2 separate regions of the Homo sapiens genome follow, and region 2 is linked to region 1. Evidence: fine-mapped QTL for protein levels in blood plasma. A gene starts in region 1. The other region holds a variant in brackets. All regions are shown on one strand. Distances are from middle to middle.

Region 1 (8,984 bases):
CTAGGCATAGAATTGGAAATGGGAGACCATACTACAAAGCTCATTTTTAAATTTTAAAGCCATTGCAATGGTCAAAACTTGTGAAACATGATAGAAATTTTGATAGATGTGCCTCTAGTCATCCATAGAGAAAAGGTCAAGAAATTAAAAACAAAACACAAAAAGCCCATTTCACACATAGAAGGTAAAAGACTTATGTGTGTCTGCTCTTCAGTGTCATACCTGCATCTTGCATCCACATCTTTTCTATGATGGGCTGCACATTGTATCAGCATTGTTTGTGTATGTATGAACCTTGCTCATTGTTTCTCTAGGGGCCACTTAATTAATGTTCATCAACTTAATAAGCAAATCCTCAGCTGAGCTATAATTTCTCATAGCTTTATAAAACTAAAGTGACCTTAGGTGGCATGTGGTTGAGTCTCCTCATTTGCTAATAAAAATATTGAGGTTCAAAATGGTAGAGAGATGTACCCAAGGTCACACAAGCAGGGAACAGCAAATATGGGCCCTCAGATCTGACTTGAAGTCTGGTGCTCTTAACACTATGCAGTACAACCTCCTCAAAGGCTCACCTACTCCTTGACTCTCTGGGGAGAAGGTTTCATTACTTCCTATATACCAGTAGACCTTTCTCTAATCAGTAGAAATACATTTATTCTGATGGTTTTCTGACTGAGAAACTATCAGAAGTCCTGTCCCTGAGAAAAGGGTATGGTTGTTTATGTACGTAATCCTCCGGGCCAAATAAATACAAATCAAGAATTTAGCCTGAAGACAAGACAAGTAATTGTGGAAATCAATATTGGCAGGCTCTTTCTATCTGTGGTTTACTTTTTGGAGTCCAGCACTGTATTAGTCAAGGCTTCTTCAGTTGAAAATGACAGGAATCCAACTACAGCAAGCTTAGAAAAGAAACAAAAATCTATTGGCTTGAAAAATGGCATTTCTACCTTGAGACGTAGCAGGATCCATGGAGTCTTTCAAGTGTTCTTTCTCCATCTCTCAGCATTGCTTTTCTGCATGGAAGGAAATACAGTCACTGACAACTCTATACCTATACCATCCGATTCACTATTGTTCATATGACACATCTCATGGAAAAAAGCCTGATTGGAAATATTTGGGACATATGACCACCCTGTATCAATCACTATACATTAGGAGAACAGGTTCTACTATAGAGTTAGCCAGGGTCACATGTCCACCTCTGAGAAAGAGAAGAGAGGCACACATTTTACTAGCATATGGGGAATCATATGAAAAGGATCATTACTCTAAGGAAGGGATGCTTTGCTGAGGGAAAAAAAAAAGTTCACTTCAACACAAAGATCCCTCCTTAAACCAGAAGCCTAAACATATGGAGTCCCCTCCTAAAGTTGTTTGACATCCCAGGGCACTGACTCCTGCAAACTGTATTTCTTAGGCTGCTTTGTCAACTGACTTTCTTCTAGGTTCACCCAATGACAGGGTTTTGAAATACAGGTTAAAGGAGGGCCACAATATTTCTTTTCACTCTCAGCTTTTGGAGGACCCTCCAGCATTATCTGTCTCCCAGTAAGCATCTCCACTGTGGTCTCAGTTCCTTTAATGTAGCTTGTGCTCCTCATTCCTGGTAAAGCCTCCTCTCTAGCACTCCCCAGCCTGAGAGTGGTAGTACTTTCCTGCTAGTAACTATCATCGTGTTGCCTCATCATCCCCTAGTTGGCTTTTTAGTCATTTGAATCCTTTGTAATTTGTTCCCCATATTAAATTCTCTCTATTGAATTACAACATATAGATGCTATTTTTCTGAAAGAACTCTAAGATGTGTGTCGAGAGGAGGCAATCTCCCATATAAGGACCAGGTTCCCCAAAGAGAAAAGCCATTAGAGTTTGGCTGCCTCAGCTAATCTTAAAGTGGAGGAAAAAACAAACAAACAAACAAACAAACAAAAACAAAAAGTGCTGAGGAACACTGTACTTTAAACTATCAGAGAAATAATGTCTTTTTTATTGCTGTTTTTTAGAGACAGGGTCTCACTCTGTCACCCAGGCTGGAGTGCAGTGGTGTAATCATAACTCACTGCACCCTCAAACTTCTGGCTTCAAGCGATACTCCCTCCTGAGCTGCTGGGATTACAGGTGTGAGCCACCGCTCCTGGCCCTGGAAAATTACTCTCATTGAGCACCTGCGCCTGCATGCCTGGTCATGAATGTCAGCTGCTAACACTCTGGTAGCATGCCTACTCCTTCCTCCCATCCACATACTGTCTATGATTTCCTAGTCTCCTAAGACCTCCTTCTCAGTAAGGCCATCTTCCGAGGAGGAGCATCAACTCCTCCAACCTCCCAGCTCCTGGGTGTGCCTTGATACTTCCAAACTCACTGCAAGCGTCACTGGCACATGGTATGAAGCAGAGCGGGGGAGGCAGGACACAGAGCACTGGGTGTGACTGGGGAGGGCAGGCTTTCACAGCTTCCTCTGTGATGGTTTCTAATCCTTGCAGGCTCCCACCATTGGGTCTCTTTCCATCTGAAAATGGAGGAAATTAGACCAGCTGCCTAAAACATCAACTCTAATGTTCTAGGTTCTAAGATTCTGTGGTTAATTTAAGTGACAGAACCACATTATGGCTGCTGTTTCATCAGCACTGTGAAGACTGTACAAGCCACACCTCAGTATGTTGGCTGACCTTAAAAACACCTTGTCAGTACTTGATATAGACACTCGAAGTAATTCTAAGTTGCATCTTACTTTTCTTACTTACAATAAAATGCTGCTCTCTGATTATGAAGATTCATACTCCTTAGTACGAATGGTAAAGAATCATTTGTTTTCTCAGGTGGTCATTTCACTTTCAAAAGCATTTAAGAGGCAATTTTTTTAAGGGTGATATTTCAAGGTCAACACTTTCCGTGCTTTCTAATTCATTGTATTTGTATCATTCTTCAAAGATCCTTCATATTCATTATCTTTTTAAGCATAAGAGAATTGGGCTGTCATTTTTAGTTCTCATATGACACATGAATACACTGAGAGTTAGATTAAGTGAACTGTCTCTAGAGCATACGTCTGGCTATCTAGAATGTAATAACTATAAAGGGAGGGGATCTTTCTTATTAGGGTTGTGGGAAAGGTCTGTCACTGATGTTTCTAATGCTTAGAAGAGTGCCTGACACATAGTAGGTGTCAATAAACATTCGTTGACTCAATAAATGAATGAATCTAATTCGTGACAGAGCTGGGTCTAGAATTCTCTACTCCCTCAGCCATTGCTCCTTTAGTGCTGACAAGAGTTGTTCTATGTTCTCAAGCGCCCCACATTCCTTTGTCTTTTCTGGATGCACCTGTGGTTGGGTTTGTGAGGCGAGGCCAGTGAGCTTTCCTGGTGAGGTGCCACTGGCAACCCCGCCTCATAGCGACACAGGGGAGGGAAGCAGGGGGTCTGCGGAGGTTGCTCCCGAGAGACTAAAGCTGTTGCCCCCGATTTTCCAAGGACGCCAGTGAGGAAGGCCCGCCTGTCCCGCCGCCCGGGCACTGGCCTCACTTTGTCGCGGGAGGGGACCAGGGCTCTGGAGAAGGCCCGGGCCAGCGGCTGGGCGGGGCTCTCCGAGGCTCCCACCTCGCGGTCCCCGCCTGGCGGCCGGCGGCTGCGGCAGAAGGCGAAGCGGTCGTGCTCCCCCTCCCGGACACTGCGGCGGTGGCAGCGCCAGCCCCGCCGCGGCCGCCCACGGGCTCGCGGAGTCTGGCGGGACCTGCGCGGGGCGGGACCTGCGCGGGGCGGGGAGGAGGGGCCGAGGCGGAGCTGCTGCGCTGGGAGCCGGCTGGGGGCGCCGCTCTCAGTCTGGGGCGGGCGCTCGGGCTGCGCGGGCTCTGGGCAGCAGCAGCAGCAGCAGCAGCATCCTCTCTTCCTTTACTTCCCTTCCGCTTCTTTCTCTTCCTTCTCCTTCTTTTTCCCCCCCCTCCCCTTCTTCCCCTAACCCTTCTACCCCTCTCCTTTTTCTCCGGAGGGCGCTAAGTCCGTGAGCGGTGGCAGTCGCGACCGCGGGTGCATCCAGTTTCTGCGCCCAGGTAAGAGACCGTCCCCACCTCTGGCTCTATGTAGGGCGCCTCTCCTTTTGCCTCGGTCTCTGAGTAGAAAGAGATAGGAATGGGGAGGGGTTGTGTCTCGTCCTCTGGGACTCGCAGCAGGCAGTCTGGTAGTTGGTCGAGTGGCCAGCCGTGCACCTGGCGGAAGATTCGGGCCTGTCCTCTCCAGGTGTCACTGCGGAGCAGGGGGCCGGACGCTACTGGTACCTGAGCCCTGGCTTCGTAGAAGAGCGAGTGAGCTTGTTAGGTACCACTTTGAAACAACTGAAAACTTACGCCAGGTTAGAATACGTGTATCGAAAGCCAGTATTACCTGCGCTGTGGAAAGAAGGGGAGTGGATTCTACAAAGATAGTGGAAAATAGGAAATCGAGGTAGGGGATTTTTTTGTTCATCCAGCTGCAGAGAACTGCACACTGGGAAGTGAGTGAGTGAGGGAAGCCTTGTCCATTTCAAATCATGTTTCTCTGTAATTCCTTCAGAAACAGCTGGGAGAGGAGGACTGATATTTATAATTGTAGGAAAATGAAAAATAAATGCCTGGTGGTGTTGGAGGGCGGGGCACGAAGAAATGAGTCTGGTTAGGCTTCCACACAGTCGTTTTTCTTTTTAAACGTTGGGGGTGGACCTCTGAATCTACAGTGCATCTATTCTTTTCTTCCTTTTCTTTTTAAAAGGCTTTTTTGGTGGGGAGAGGAGGACTGCAGTGCTGGCTGCCTGCCTTCCCCCACCTCGTCTTTTGTTTAAGGATGGAAATTTCAAGAAAGAGTGTGTGGGGGGCTAGGAGTGGGGAGCTGTATATTTGGGTGTGTATAGGGGGAGGGGTATGGATGGAGTCAGAAAAAAAATCCTTGAAAACTGGAAATTAATGTTATTCTGCCTGGCATCCGGACTTCAGGATTTTTGTCAGAAAATAAAAAGCTTTCATTAGCAACAAGCCCGTTTGTGACAATTGCTGTGTGCCATCTGTCGTAAGCTCTTAGCACAATGCTTCCAGGACATAGACGCTTTAAAATTGAGTCCGGTGTAAAGGGTTTTTGTTTAAATGCCTAAACACACAAGTATGCACACAAATGTATAATACACTATATACATGTTACAAAAGGAAATAGGTACTTAAGAGACTGATTTTTTAAAATTGTATTTGAGGGTTTGGAAATTATGTTGTGAATAAAATCTGTAGTGCAAAACAAAAAAATATTGTTGGGTGGTATATAATTTTGGGTGTGAGGCAAAGGGATTGATGACTGTTGGTAAGGAACTAATTTAAATGTTAAAGGTATAATTTATTTTAAAATGATCAGTCTAGAAAAGGAAATGATTGCAAACTGAAATTGAGGTTTGCAGCCACAGTGAGGCGATGGAGAACAAAGCCTTCTATGTGAGCCACATTATGCAAAATGTCCCATGCATGAGCTGCAGGTACCAGCCCAGTTCAAAAGCATAGTTCTTTCACTATGTCATTTCACTGTGGACAATTATGATTTTTTTTGGCAGTCAAATAGATTGAATAAATAGAAGCCCTTTAGAATGCTTTTAATTTTATGCCCAGGGAAAAGATTACAGCCTTCCATCAGAATATAACACAAAGCAGCCCTTTAACCGGGCAATAGGTGTATTTTGGTAGAAATCCTTGTGAATTTGCAAATCATGGATGTTCCAAAAGCCCCAGCCCCATGCACACAAAGAACCCTTCCTTCAAGAAAAAAGGCATTTTTCTCATTCAGTAAGGATTATTATATTTGTGTGTGTATGTTTATGTTGATTTCCTGGTAATTTCATCTGATTATCATAGGTGTACATCTGCATTCATGATTTGTATATTATCAGAGCCATTGTGGCTTTAGGATCAGTGGTACATGCTGTTTATCTGTGGTTTATTTAATTTTAATTTTTCATATTTTACAGTTTGCTACAATATTATTTAATGTCCAAAGTTTTCTTTTTTAAAACCATAAGTAGAAAATTGCTTAACACACATCTGAAGATCTAAGTAATTTAAAAATAGAGCTACCTTTTATAAAATAATATTTTAGTTATATTAATTTTTATTTTATTTATCTCCTCTCTTATTTTTTTCCCTTTTCTAATCAAATAACCTGTTTCTTTATGGCTGCTTTAGTCTTCTATACTGCCATAGGAGGGCCAGTGTTTTCAAGAATTTTGAATTTAGGATTGTTCATTCTCTGCAGCACCTCTCAGGATGACTTGTTTACAGCACCTTCTCAGGGAGGAGACAGGGAAAGAATGTGCTGAAAGAGCATGACCCAGTGAAACTGGCACAGCCATTACCTCATCCTAGTAGGTACTTCAGATTCATTGAGAGAGCAGGCATCCTCTCAGTGGAAACCAAACACCAGGAGCACACCCATCTCAGGGCAAAAGCCTTTCTCTTCCCATAGCAGCCTTTACTAATGTCATTCCACTGAGGTTAAAGGGATATTTTCTCTTTTATGTATTCCTTTTCAGGGATCTTGAACTTGGTTAGAAATATGTAGCCAGAAATGAAACTTGGCACAGAATCCTCTAAGCCTGAAGGAATAATTTCATTCCTTTACCCCTTTTGGTTTAAACCAGTTCGCAAATTTTCTAAACATCAGAAGGGAAAAGGAAGAAAAATGTTGGTGTATTTTTGTGTATTTTCTTATCACACACACATATTTTGTATTGAATTTTACTAGCAGTTAGACAACAGACTGGACATGCTATTAACAAATGTAGTTGCACTGTTGGCATTTTAAAAAATCATTATTACATTTGCTTATAGGACAATAGGTGCATCCTTCAGTGATTCATTGATGTCCTTTTGAGACTGACCATATGAAACTGACATGGGGATTTTAGTATTCAAGTTGGTAACTCTGATTATTGAATCCTTTCAATACTTAATTTCCTCTTAACAGATTAAGATAAAGAATCTGAAATAATAGTTACAGTAGAAGATAGCACCACCCCCAGATCAATACTATCCTCCTTAATGCTAAAAGTAGTCACTTTAGGTAAGTCATTAGTAAATGCATGAACCTGAAGATAACAGTTTTGAAACAATCTCAAATTTTTTTGTCTCTGTTATAGATTAGTTAAAGATGCTAATAAACTCTTTGAGTCATATCTGATTCTCTCAGATATATCAAGTGTTTTTGCTACTTTAATTATCTCTTTACTATTGCCATTACCTTTATCTACTCAATCTAGACCTTTTCATGTAAGGACTGTATTTTGATCATTTCACCATATTTTCCCTCCCTTCACATCATTCTTTTTAATTCGACATTTGGATGTTAGACTTACTGTTCTCTAGCTATTTTGGTTTCAGTAATGTTACTCTCTTGATACAAATTTGGCCTTTATTTTTCATTAAGGAGAGCACTTATTACCATTTATGTATTTATTTATTCATTATGAGAAACAACTTTTGATATTCTCAGTTTTCAATTGCAGAAAATGATTCTAGGCACCAAAAGCAGTTAAAAGTCTGCAAATTAATATGTAGTACACAAAAGGCCAAAGTCAAGGGAGACAGTCTGTATGAAGGTTTGGGTGGGTGGGTAGGTGGGTGGGCGTAGAGGAAGATGTGGAATGAAAGCAAATTCTCAGCTATTAAAAGCTGTCCATGTAGGGTAGAGATGAGCCTTTTTGTCTAAGAGGGTGAAGAAGGAATAAATGTTTTGTTTTTCTGTTTCAACATATTTTGTCCCCATCCCTCCCCTGTCATGTCTTTGAACTAAGGCCATGGTGCTTCCTTATAAAAATTATACAGTATGTTTATTGGAAGGAGTTTTACAGTGAATTAGGTGAATTCAGAATTTTAAAATGATGTGAACACAATTAGATGAATTTTTATGAAAAACACTTTGAATCTAATCTTTGATCTTTCCTGTTCAAGACATAAGCTTTCCTTTGAATGGTAGTACTTTAACTGTAATACATTTTACTTAAACATTTCAGTAAAATTCTATGGAAAGTTAGACAAAATAAAGAGCTCAGGATCCTCTTTCAGTCTACTGTTAAGTTTATATTGTGGAAGTTGGGGAAAGTTTTAGACAGTTTGTTTTCCGTTAAAACACACACTAGAGGGGGCAAATTTCTTTTTTTTTTTTTTTGCTTTTTGTTATGTTAATGAGCAAATAATTTACTTTTAAGATCACATACCTTGACTTTTTTCTTTCCTTTTTTGTCTTCTTTCCATTCTCCTCTTTCCCTTTTCTTTTCTTCTTTACTTAGATTGCTCCTTTCTTTCAGTTTGTATTGGCAAAATAAACATTGGTCTTTAGAAAATGAAATTATAGCCTGATATTCTTATTGAAATTTATTTTTCATTATATTTATATTTCTCATTTAACATGAAGTTTTATGCTAACCTCTCCTCCTTCTCAAGGCTCCATCCCTATCTTGGTCCTTTCTTTGAACTTGGCTTTTATATCCCCTAGGCTTCAACAGTTTTTTCCTTGTATACCAATCTTTCATAACGCTTTGTACCTCAAAAAGGCCTTTAAAAACCAGAAGAAAAGTTACTACCCTATTTCTCCCGATTAGTTTGTATCCAAGTTTATTCAGGTTCCCTTAGGTTATAGGTAATTGCTCGCCTCAATGTGTCCTCATTAGCCTTCTTTGAATTACTTTATTTTATTTTATTTATTTATTTATTTATTTATTTATTTATTTATTTATTTATTTTGAGACGGAGTCTCGCTCTTTCGCCCAGGCCGGAGTACAGTGGCGCCATCTCGGCTCACTGCAAGCTCCGCCCCCCGGGTTCACGCCATTCTCCTGCCTCAGCCTCCCGAGTAGCTGGGACTACAGGCGCCCGCCACCGCTCCCGGCTAATTTTTTGTATTTTTAGTAGAGACAGGGTTTCACCTTGTTAGCCAGGATGATCTCGATCTCCTGACCTCGTGATCCGCCCGCCTCAG
Region 2 (8,984 bases), 71 kb after region 1:
AATCCAGGAGCTAGTTTGTTTGAAAAGATTAACAAAATACATAGACCACTAGCCAGACCAATAAAGAAGAGAGAAGAATCAAATAGACACAATAAAAATTGATAAAAGGGAGATCACCACTGATCCCACAGAAATACAGACTGCCATCAGAGAATACTATAAAACACCTCTACACAAATAAACTAGACAATCTAGAAGAAATGGATACATTTCTGGAAACATACACCCTCCCAAGACTAAATCAGGAAGAAGTCGAATCCCTGAATAGATCAATAACAAGTTCTGAAATTGAGGCAGTAATTAATAGGCTACCAACCAAAAAAAACCCAGGATCAGATGGATTCATAGCCAACTTATACCAGAAGTACAAAGAGGAGCTGTTACTATTCCTTCTGAAACTATTCCAAACAATAAAAAAAGAGGGACTCCTCACTAACTCATTTTATGAGGCCAGCATCATCCTGATAACAAAACCTGGCAGAGACACAACTAAACAAGAACATTTCAGCCCAATATCCCTGATGAACATCAATGCGAAAATCCTCAATAAATACTGGCAAACCAAATCCAGCAGCACATCAAAAACTTATCGACTATGATCAAGTTGGCTTCATCCTTTGGATGCAAGGCTGGTTCAACATATGCAAATCAATAAATGTAATCCATCACATAAAACCAATGACAAAAAACACATGATTATCTCAATGGATGCAGAAAAGGCCTTTGATAAAATTCAAAACCCCTTCATGCTAAAAGCACTCAATAAACTAGGTATTGATGAAACATATCTCAAAATAATAAGAGCTATTTATGGCAAACCCACAGCCAGTATCACACTGAATGGGCAAAAGCTGGAAGTATTCCATTTGAAAACTGGCACAAGAAAAGGATGCCCTCTCTCACCACTCCTATTTAACATAGTATTAGAAGTTCTGGCCAGAGCAGTCAGGCAAGATAAAGAAATAAAGGGTATTCACTTAAGAATAGAGGAAGTCAAATTATCTCTGTTTGCAGATGACATAATTCTATATTTAGAAAACACCATCGTCAGGCCCAAAATCTCCTTAAGATGATAAGCAACTTCAGCAAAGTCTCAGGATACAAAATTAATGTGGAAAAATCACAAGCATTCCTATACACCAATAATAGACAGACACAGAGCCAAATCTTGAGCAAACTCCCATTCACAATTGCTATAAAGAGAATAAAATACCTAGGAATAAAGCTTACAAGGATGTGAAGGACCTCTTCAAGGAGAACTACAAACCACTGCTCAAGGAAATAGGAGAGGACACACACAAATGGAAAAACATTCCATGCTGATGGATAGGAAGAAACAATATCATGAAAATGGCCATACTGCCCAATGTAATTTATAGATTCAATGCTACTCTCATCAAGCTACCACTGACTTTCTTCACAGAATTAGGAAAAAGCTACTTTAAATTTCATACAGAACCAAAAAAGATCCTGTATAGCCTAAGCAAAAAGAGCAAAGCTGGAGGCATCATGCTACCTGATTTCAAACTATACTACAAGGCTACATTAACCAAAATGTTATGGTACTGGTACCAAAACAGATACATAGACCAATGGAACAGAACAGAGGCCTCAGAAATAATGCCACACATCTACAACCACCTGATCTTTGACAAATGTGACAAAAACAAGCAATGGGGAAAGGATTTCCTATTTAATAAATGGTGTTGGGAAAACTCGCTAGCCATATGCAGAAAACTGAAACTGGACCCCTTCGTTACACTGTATACAAAAATTAATGCAAGATGGATTAAAGATTTAAACATAATACCTAAAACCATAAAAACCCTAGAAGAAAACCTAGGCAATACCATTCAGGACATAGGCATGGGCAAAGACTTCATGACTAAAACACCAAAAGCAATGGCAACAAAAGCCAAAATTGACAAATGACAAATGTGATCTAATGAAACTAAAGAGCTTCTGCACAGCAAAAGAAACTGTCATCAGAGTGAACAGGCAACCTACAGAATGGGAGAAAATTTTTGCTATCTATCCATCTGACAAAGGGCTAATATCCAGAGTCTACAAGGAACTTAAACAAATTCACAAGAAAAAACAATCCCACCAAAAAGTGGGCAAAGGATATGAACAGACACTTCTCAAAGTAAGACATTTATGTGGCCAACAAACATATGAAGAAAAGCTCCTCATCACTGGTCATTAGAGAAAAGCAAATCAAAACCACAATGAGATACCATCTCATGCCAGTTAGAATGGTGATCATTAAAAAGTCAGGAAACAATAGATGCTGGAGAGGACATAGAGAAATAGGAATGCTTTTACACTGTTGGTGGGAATGTAAATTAGTTCAACCATTGTGAAAGACAGTATGGCGATTCCTCAATGATCTAGAACCAGGAATACCATTTGGCCCAGCAATCCCATTACTGGGTATATACCCAAAGGATTATAAATCATTCTACCATAAAGACACATGCACTTGTATGTTTATTGCAGCACTCTTCACAATAGCAAAGACTTGGAACCAACCAAAATGCCCATCAATGTTAGACTGGATAAAGAAAATTTGGCATACATACACCATGGAATATTATGCAGCTATAAAAAAGAACGAGTTCATGTCCTTTGCAGGGTCATGGATAAAGCTGGAAACCATCATTCTCAGCAAACTAACACAGGAACAGAAAACCAAACACCACACATTCTCACTGATAAGTGAGAGTTGAACAATGAGAACATGGGCACAGGGCAGGGAACATCACACACCGGGGCCTGTTGGGGAGGTTGGGGGCAAGGAGAGGGATACCATTAGGAGAAATACCTAATGTAGATGACTGTTTGATGGGTGCAGCAAACCACCGTGGCCCATATATACCTATGTAACAAACCTGCATGTTCTGCCCAGGTATCCCAAAACTTAAAGTATAATTAAAAAAAAAAAAAAGCCAGCTAAATCCCACTGAAACCAAGATGGTTATGAGAGTGACCTTTGGTCATCCTCACTGCTATAGTCCTACCAGCGCCATGACAGTTTACAAATCCCATGGCAATATCATGAAGTTACCCTGTATGGTCTAAAAAGGTGAGGCATGAATAATTTACCCCTTGTTAGGATATAATCGAGAAATAATCATACAAATGGACAACCAACAGCCCTCAGGGCTGCTATGCCTATGGAGTAGCTATTCTTTATTCCTTTACTTTCTTAATAGACTTGCTTTCACTTTAAAAAACAAATAAATAAATATTGCCATCTTCCAAAGTTTTTGTCCCACTGAAAACACAGAAAGAACTAAAAGAGATTGAGATATTTTCATTTCAAAAATTTATCATTGGTTTTCAGGTTTCTTCAAAGCATGTTTTCCCCTATTGTTTCTGCCTGAATTTGAATATGCCAGAACTCCTTAGAGAATTATATAGGTAGGAAAATCTGTCAGTGCTCTAAACTTAAAAACAGAAGATGAAAAAATAATATATGCTGGCCATATATGTGTATATATTCCACCTTATCTGTGATTTTTGTTATTTCTTTGCCTTAATAAAAGACATCGGTAAACAAAGCCACCCGAAGTTTGGACTGGGCGGAGCCCAGCACAGTGCCGTAAGCTGCTGTAGCCAGACTGCCTCTGTAGATTCCTCCTCTCTGGACAGGGCATCTCTGAAAGAAAGGCAGCAGCCCTAGTCAGGGGCTTGTGGATAAAACTCCCATCTCCCGGCGACAGAGCACCTGGGGGAAGAGGGGGATGTGGGTACAGCTTCAGCCGACTTAAACGTTCCTGCCTGCCAGCTCTGAAGAGAGCGGCAGATCTCCCAGCACAGTGCTCGAGCTCTGCTAAGGGACAGACTGCCTCCTCAAATGAGCCCCTGACCCCCGTGCCTCATAACGGGGAGATACCTCCCAGTAGGGGATGACAGACATCTCATACGGGAGAGCTCCGGCTGGCATCTGGTGGGTGTCCCTCTGGGACAAAGCTTCCAGAGGAAGGAGCAGTCAGCAATCTTTACTGTCCTGCAGCCTCTGCTGGTGATACCCAGGCAAAGAGGGTCTGGAGTGGACCTCCAGCAAACTCCAGCAGACCTGCAGAAGAGGGACCTGACTGTCAGAAGGAAAACTAACAAACAGAAAGGTACTGGATATTCAATCTTTATAAGCTTAGTTTTCTCCTAGGAATAAAAATAGTATCTGCTGTGTTTGGCCTTTGTGAGGATTAAATCAATAATGCATCTGACAAACTTTGTAGAATGATTGAGTTGTATTAAACACTTAATACTCATTTCCTATAATTGTTACTCATTTCCTATAATTGTTGTTTTGTATTAGAATGGTACTCTAGCCTTCATAAAACAAATTCCATGATTTAGACATTTGAAAGTTCTTCATTTTCAACTGACATTTATTTCTAGTTACTGCATCACCTAGTCATTTTATGTTCAGTGTTGTGACAGCAAATGGGTGAAATAGTTTCAATTTCCCAGCATGTAACTGGCCTTTTTAGCCTTAACTTTCTTTTCCAGCATTGTTACGGCAGCTACAGCAAACATGTCAGAGTACAGAACATTCCATTAAGAGCCTTATCTCATGCCTCGCTTCCTATGATGTTTTGTATGAATAATACAATGTCTAGAGGTGAAATTAGTTG[G/C]AGTGCTCATGACTCAGCCTCTTTTTCTGGGGAGTGAGTCATTCCACATTTATAGATTCCTGACTTTGTGCCGTATACCACACTAAGTGCTTGGAATACAAACATAGATTTGCTGGGTCATTGACCCAGAGCAGCCCACAGTCTGGGCAGGCAGGGTATGGCATTCATTAAGAACAATATGGGCTTACACATAGCCAGCACTCTATTAATGTTATATCTACCTGTCAAGGCAAAGTGTGATTAAATATACAATAATATGAGCTGTCTAGACAACTTAATTCTATGTTTTGGAACATGTACCTCTGACCCTATAGCCCTATATTGGTATATTTTGCCTAATTATATCACCACAAATTTAACTCCTTTATTGTTTTGTTTGGATACTGAGTTTTTATTCCTTTGCATATCACGTAAAATCATACCCTCCATGAATAGGTCAGTTGCCTGATGAATACCTTTCCTTTATTATCCTGCCAGAAACTCACACTTAATGTGTCTAATAAAGCCCATTATCCTCTACTTTTACCCAGCAACCTGATCTCCCTTCAGGCTTTCCTGTTTCTAAGAATGTACTGGGAGTCTGTTTTTCTTACACTCTCAAAATTCTCTTGGCTCCTTTCTTCATCCTGTGCCTTTCCTGGCCAATGAATCCTTAAATTCTTTTTTTGTGTGTGTGAGACAGGGACTCTGTTGCCAAGGGTGGATTTCAGTGGTGCAATCATAGCTCACTGTAACCTCATATGCCTCTGGCTTCAGCCTCCCCAGTAGCTAGGACTACAGGTGTGCACTACCATGCCTGGCTAATTTAAAAAAAAAAATTGTTTTTGTAGTGGTCTCTCTATGTCGCTTATGCTGGTTTCAAACTCCTGGCCTCAAGCAGTCTTCTGCCTTGGTCTCCCAAAGTGCTGGGATTAGAGGTGTGAGCCACCATGACTGGCTTTAATCCCTAAATTCTGTATGGACTGTAAATACTGTTATGGACTGAGTTGTGCCCCACCCCATCCATATGTTGAAGTTCTAAGTGCCCGTGTGACTGTTTAAAAATAGGGCTTGTAGCAGGTAATTAAGGTTAAACAAAGTCATCAGAGTGGGGCCCTAATCCAGTAGGGTTGGTGGCCTCATAAGAAGAGGAAAAGAGAGTTCTCTAAATTTCCCCACCCATCTTCATGTCTTTCTTTCTCCGCCATGTGAGGATATAGTGAGAATGTGGCTGTCTACAAGCCAGGAATATAGCCCTCGCCAGAACCTGACCATGTTGGCATGTGATCTCACCCCTCCAACCTCCAGAACTGTGAAAAAGTAAATATCTGTTGTGTAAGCCACATGTCTAGGGCATTTTGTTATGTTAGACTATATTAGGCCATCTCTTGCATTGCTATAAAGAAATACATAGGACTGGAATTTACAAAGAAAAGAGGTTTAATTGGCTCACAGTTCTGCGGGCTATACAGGAAACATAGTGCTGGCATCAGCTCATGGGGAGGACTCAGGGAGCTTTTTCTCCTGGCAGAAAGCAAAGCAGGAGTGGGCACTTCATGTAGTCAAAGCAGAAGCAAGCAATGGAGAGAACAAGAGAGAAAGAGAGAGTAGAATGGGAGGCTCCACATTCTCTTAAATGACCAGATCTCATGAAAACTCACTATCACAAAACAGCACCAAGCCATAAGGGATCACCTCCATGATCCAAACCCCTCCTACTAGGCCCCACCTCCAGCACTGGGGATTACAATTCAACATGAGAATTGGGTGGCGACAAATATGAAAACTATATCATCCTGCATCTGGTCCTTTCCAAATTTCATGTCCTTCTCACATTGCAAAATACAGTCATGCTTTCCCAATGGTTCCCCAATGTCTTAACTCATTCCAGCATTAATTCAAAAGTACAAAGCCTCATTTGAAACAAGGCAAATCCCTTCAATCTACAAGCATGTAAAATCAAAAAGAGTTATTTACTCCCAATATACAATGGGGGTATAGGCACTGGGTAAACATTGATATTCCAAAAGGAAGAAATTGGCCAAAGGAAAGGGGCTAAAGGCCCCATGCAAGTTCAAAACCTAGCAGGGACAGTTATTAAACTTTAAAGCTCCAAAATAATATCTTTTGACTCCATGTCTTACATCCACAGCACACTGGTACAATGAGGGGGCTCCTAAGGCCTTGGTTAGCTCTGCCCTTTTAGCTTTGCAGGGTGCATCCTCCCCATACCCCTCAGATGCTCTCACAGGTTGTTGAGTGCCTGTGGCTTTTCCAGGTGCAGGATACAAGCTGCTGGTCTGAGGTCTGGAGGGTGGTGACCCCCTTCTCACAACTCCACTAAGGAATGCCCCAGTGGAGACCAGATGTGAGGGTTCCAACTTCACATTTCCTCTTGGCACTACCCTAGTAGAGGTTCTCTGTTGGGGCTCTGCCCCTGCAGCAGGCTTCTGCCTGGGCATCCAGGCTTTTCTACACATCCTTTGAAATCTAGGTGGAAGGTGCCAAGCCTCATTCACTCTTGCACTCTGTGCACCCGCAGGCTTAACAACACATGGAGGCTGCCAAGACTTACAGCAGTTTGTGCTCTCCAGAGCAGTGGTATGACAGTGTCTGGGGTCCTTTGAGCACAGGCTGCAGCCAGAGCTTCCAGTGCAGTACAGTATCCTAAGGCTGTGCCAGGCAATGGGGCCCTGGACCTGGCCCACAAAAACATTCTTCCCTCATAGGCCTCTGGGCCTATGATGGGAGGGGCTGCCATGAAGGTCTCTGAAATGCCTTCAAGGCCTTTTTCCCATTATCTTGGCTGTGAGTGTTTGGTGGGGTTTCATTATGCAAATTTCTCTAGCAAGTGGTTGTTCCACAGCCTGCTTGAATTCCTCTCTCAAAAAAAGCTTTTTCTTTCTCTGCCACATGGTTAGATGAAAAATTTTCTAAACTTTTATGCTGTGCTTCCCTTTTAAATATAAATTCCAATTCTTAATCTTTTATTTGCTCCTGCTTCTGAGTGTAGGTTATTAGAAACAGCCAGGCCTCCTCTTGAATGTATTGCTGCTCAGAAATTTCATCTGCCAGATATGCTGTATAGTCACCATGAAGCTCAAACTTCCAAAGACCCCTAGGGTATGGACACAATCCAGCCAAGCTCTTTGCTAACACATAAAACATGTGACCTTTGCCCCAGTTCCCAGTAAGTTCCTCATTTCCATCAGAGACCTCATCAGCCTGGATTTTGCTGTCCATATCACTATCAGCATTTTGGTCACAACAATTTAACTAGTCTCTAAAAAATTCCAAACTTTCCCTCATCTTTCTGTCTTCTTCTGAGCCATCCAGACTCTTCCAACCTCAGCTCATTACCCAGTTCCAAAGCTGCTTTCACATTTCCATGTATCTTTATAGCAACACCCCACTCTTCAGTTCAATGTATTAGGCTGTTCTTACATTGCTATAAAGAAATACCCAAGACTGGGTAATTTATTAAAAAAATAAGTTTAATAGGCTCATGGTTCTGCAATCCATACAGGAAACACAGTGCCGGCATCAGCTTCTGGGGAGGCCTCAGGGGGCTTTTACTCATGGTGGAGAGCAACACAGGAGCAGGCACTTCACATGGTGAAAGCAGGAGCAAGCCAGAAAGAGAGACAGGGGGTGGGGAGGAAAAGGAGAGGGAGAATGCCGGGAGGAGGTGGCACACACTTTTAAGTGACTGGATTTTGTGAGAACTCACTATCATGAAGACAGCACCAAGCCATGAGAGCTCTGCCCCCATTATCCAGTCACCTCCCTCCAGGCCCCACCTCCAACAATAGGGAATAAAATTCAACATGAGATTTGGGTGGAGACAAACATCAGAACTATATCACAGTCTCAGCAGACTAATACACATATCCATGCAATAGTTGTAACACTCTCCTTTATATGGACACTGTCTCCACCTGAATTGTGTCTTCATTACCATTCACCTGGACTTCTGAAGGAGCCACTTTTTTGAACACTTCTTTAAGCACTCCCCTCTCTGATCCAATCTACATAATATTGCCAGATTAAATTTCCTAATTATGCCATTCTTGAATTTAAAACCTTCAGTGGTCCACTTTCACCTACAAAATTAAATATGTTTAATTGAATAGCCTCCTCAGATTGTCATTCAAGGTCATTACTTCCTATATAGAGCCAACTTAGCTTTTCACCCAATTATTGCTCTTCTTATGGGTCATACTCCAGGCTAGGTATTTTTCCAAACACCCCCTGGGCTTTGATTCTTCTGTTACTTTGTTTCTGTGTTGTCCTGTCCATTGTCTGAATTGCTCTCCTTCCCACTCCATCTCCACCTATCAAAATCCCTTACCTCCTTCAAGG

Direction of the effects. Positions count from the first base shown, and alleles are read on the strand shown. Strength reflects both the effect of a copy and how common the allele is.
With allele G in place of C in region 2, the plasma level of the protein whose gene starts at base 3,825 in region 1 is lower (moderate association).

What was found. PIP is the posterior inclusion probability: the model's chance that the variant is causal. Protein levels are from antibody-based Olink assays in UK Biobank. Linkage for the fine-mapping came from a reference panel and not from the study's own genotypes, which makes the PIPs less certain.
Region 2: its variant is fine-mapped to the plasma level of the MAP2 protein (UK Biobank, PIP above 0.99).

The regions. Positions count from the first base shown.
Region 1 is chr2:209,420,223-209,429,206 of GRCh38, forward strand. MAP2 (microtubule associated protein 2) reads left to right here and starts at 3,825. Exons shown (of 16, transcript NM_001375505.1): 1 at 3,825-4,054. RefSeq lists a silencer at 3,506-3,895.
Region 2 is chr2:209,491,500-209,500,483 of GRCh38, forward strand. All of the region lies in intron 1 of MAP2 (microtubule associated protein 2), which reads left to right. Among named protein-coding and RNA genes, the nearest start is that of MAP2, 72 kb to the left of the region's middle. RefSeq lists an enhancer at 3,480-4,679. The variant G/C (reference allele first, on the strand shown) is at 4,644.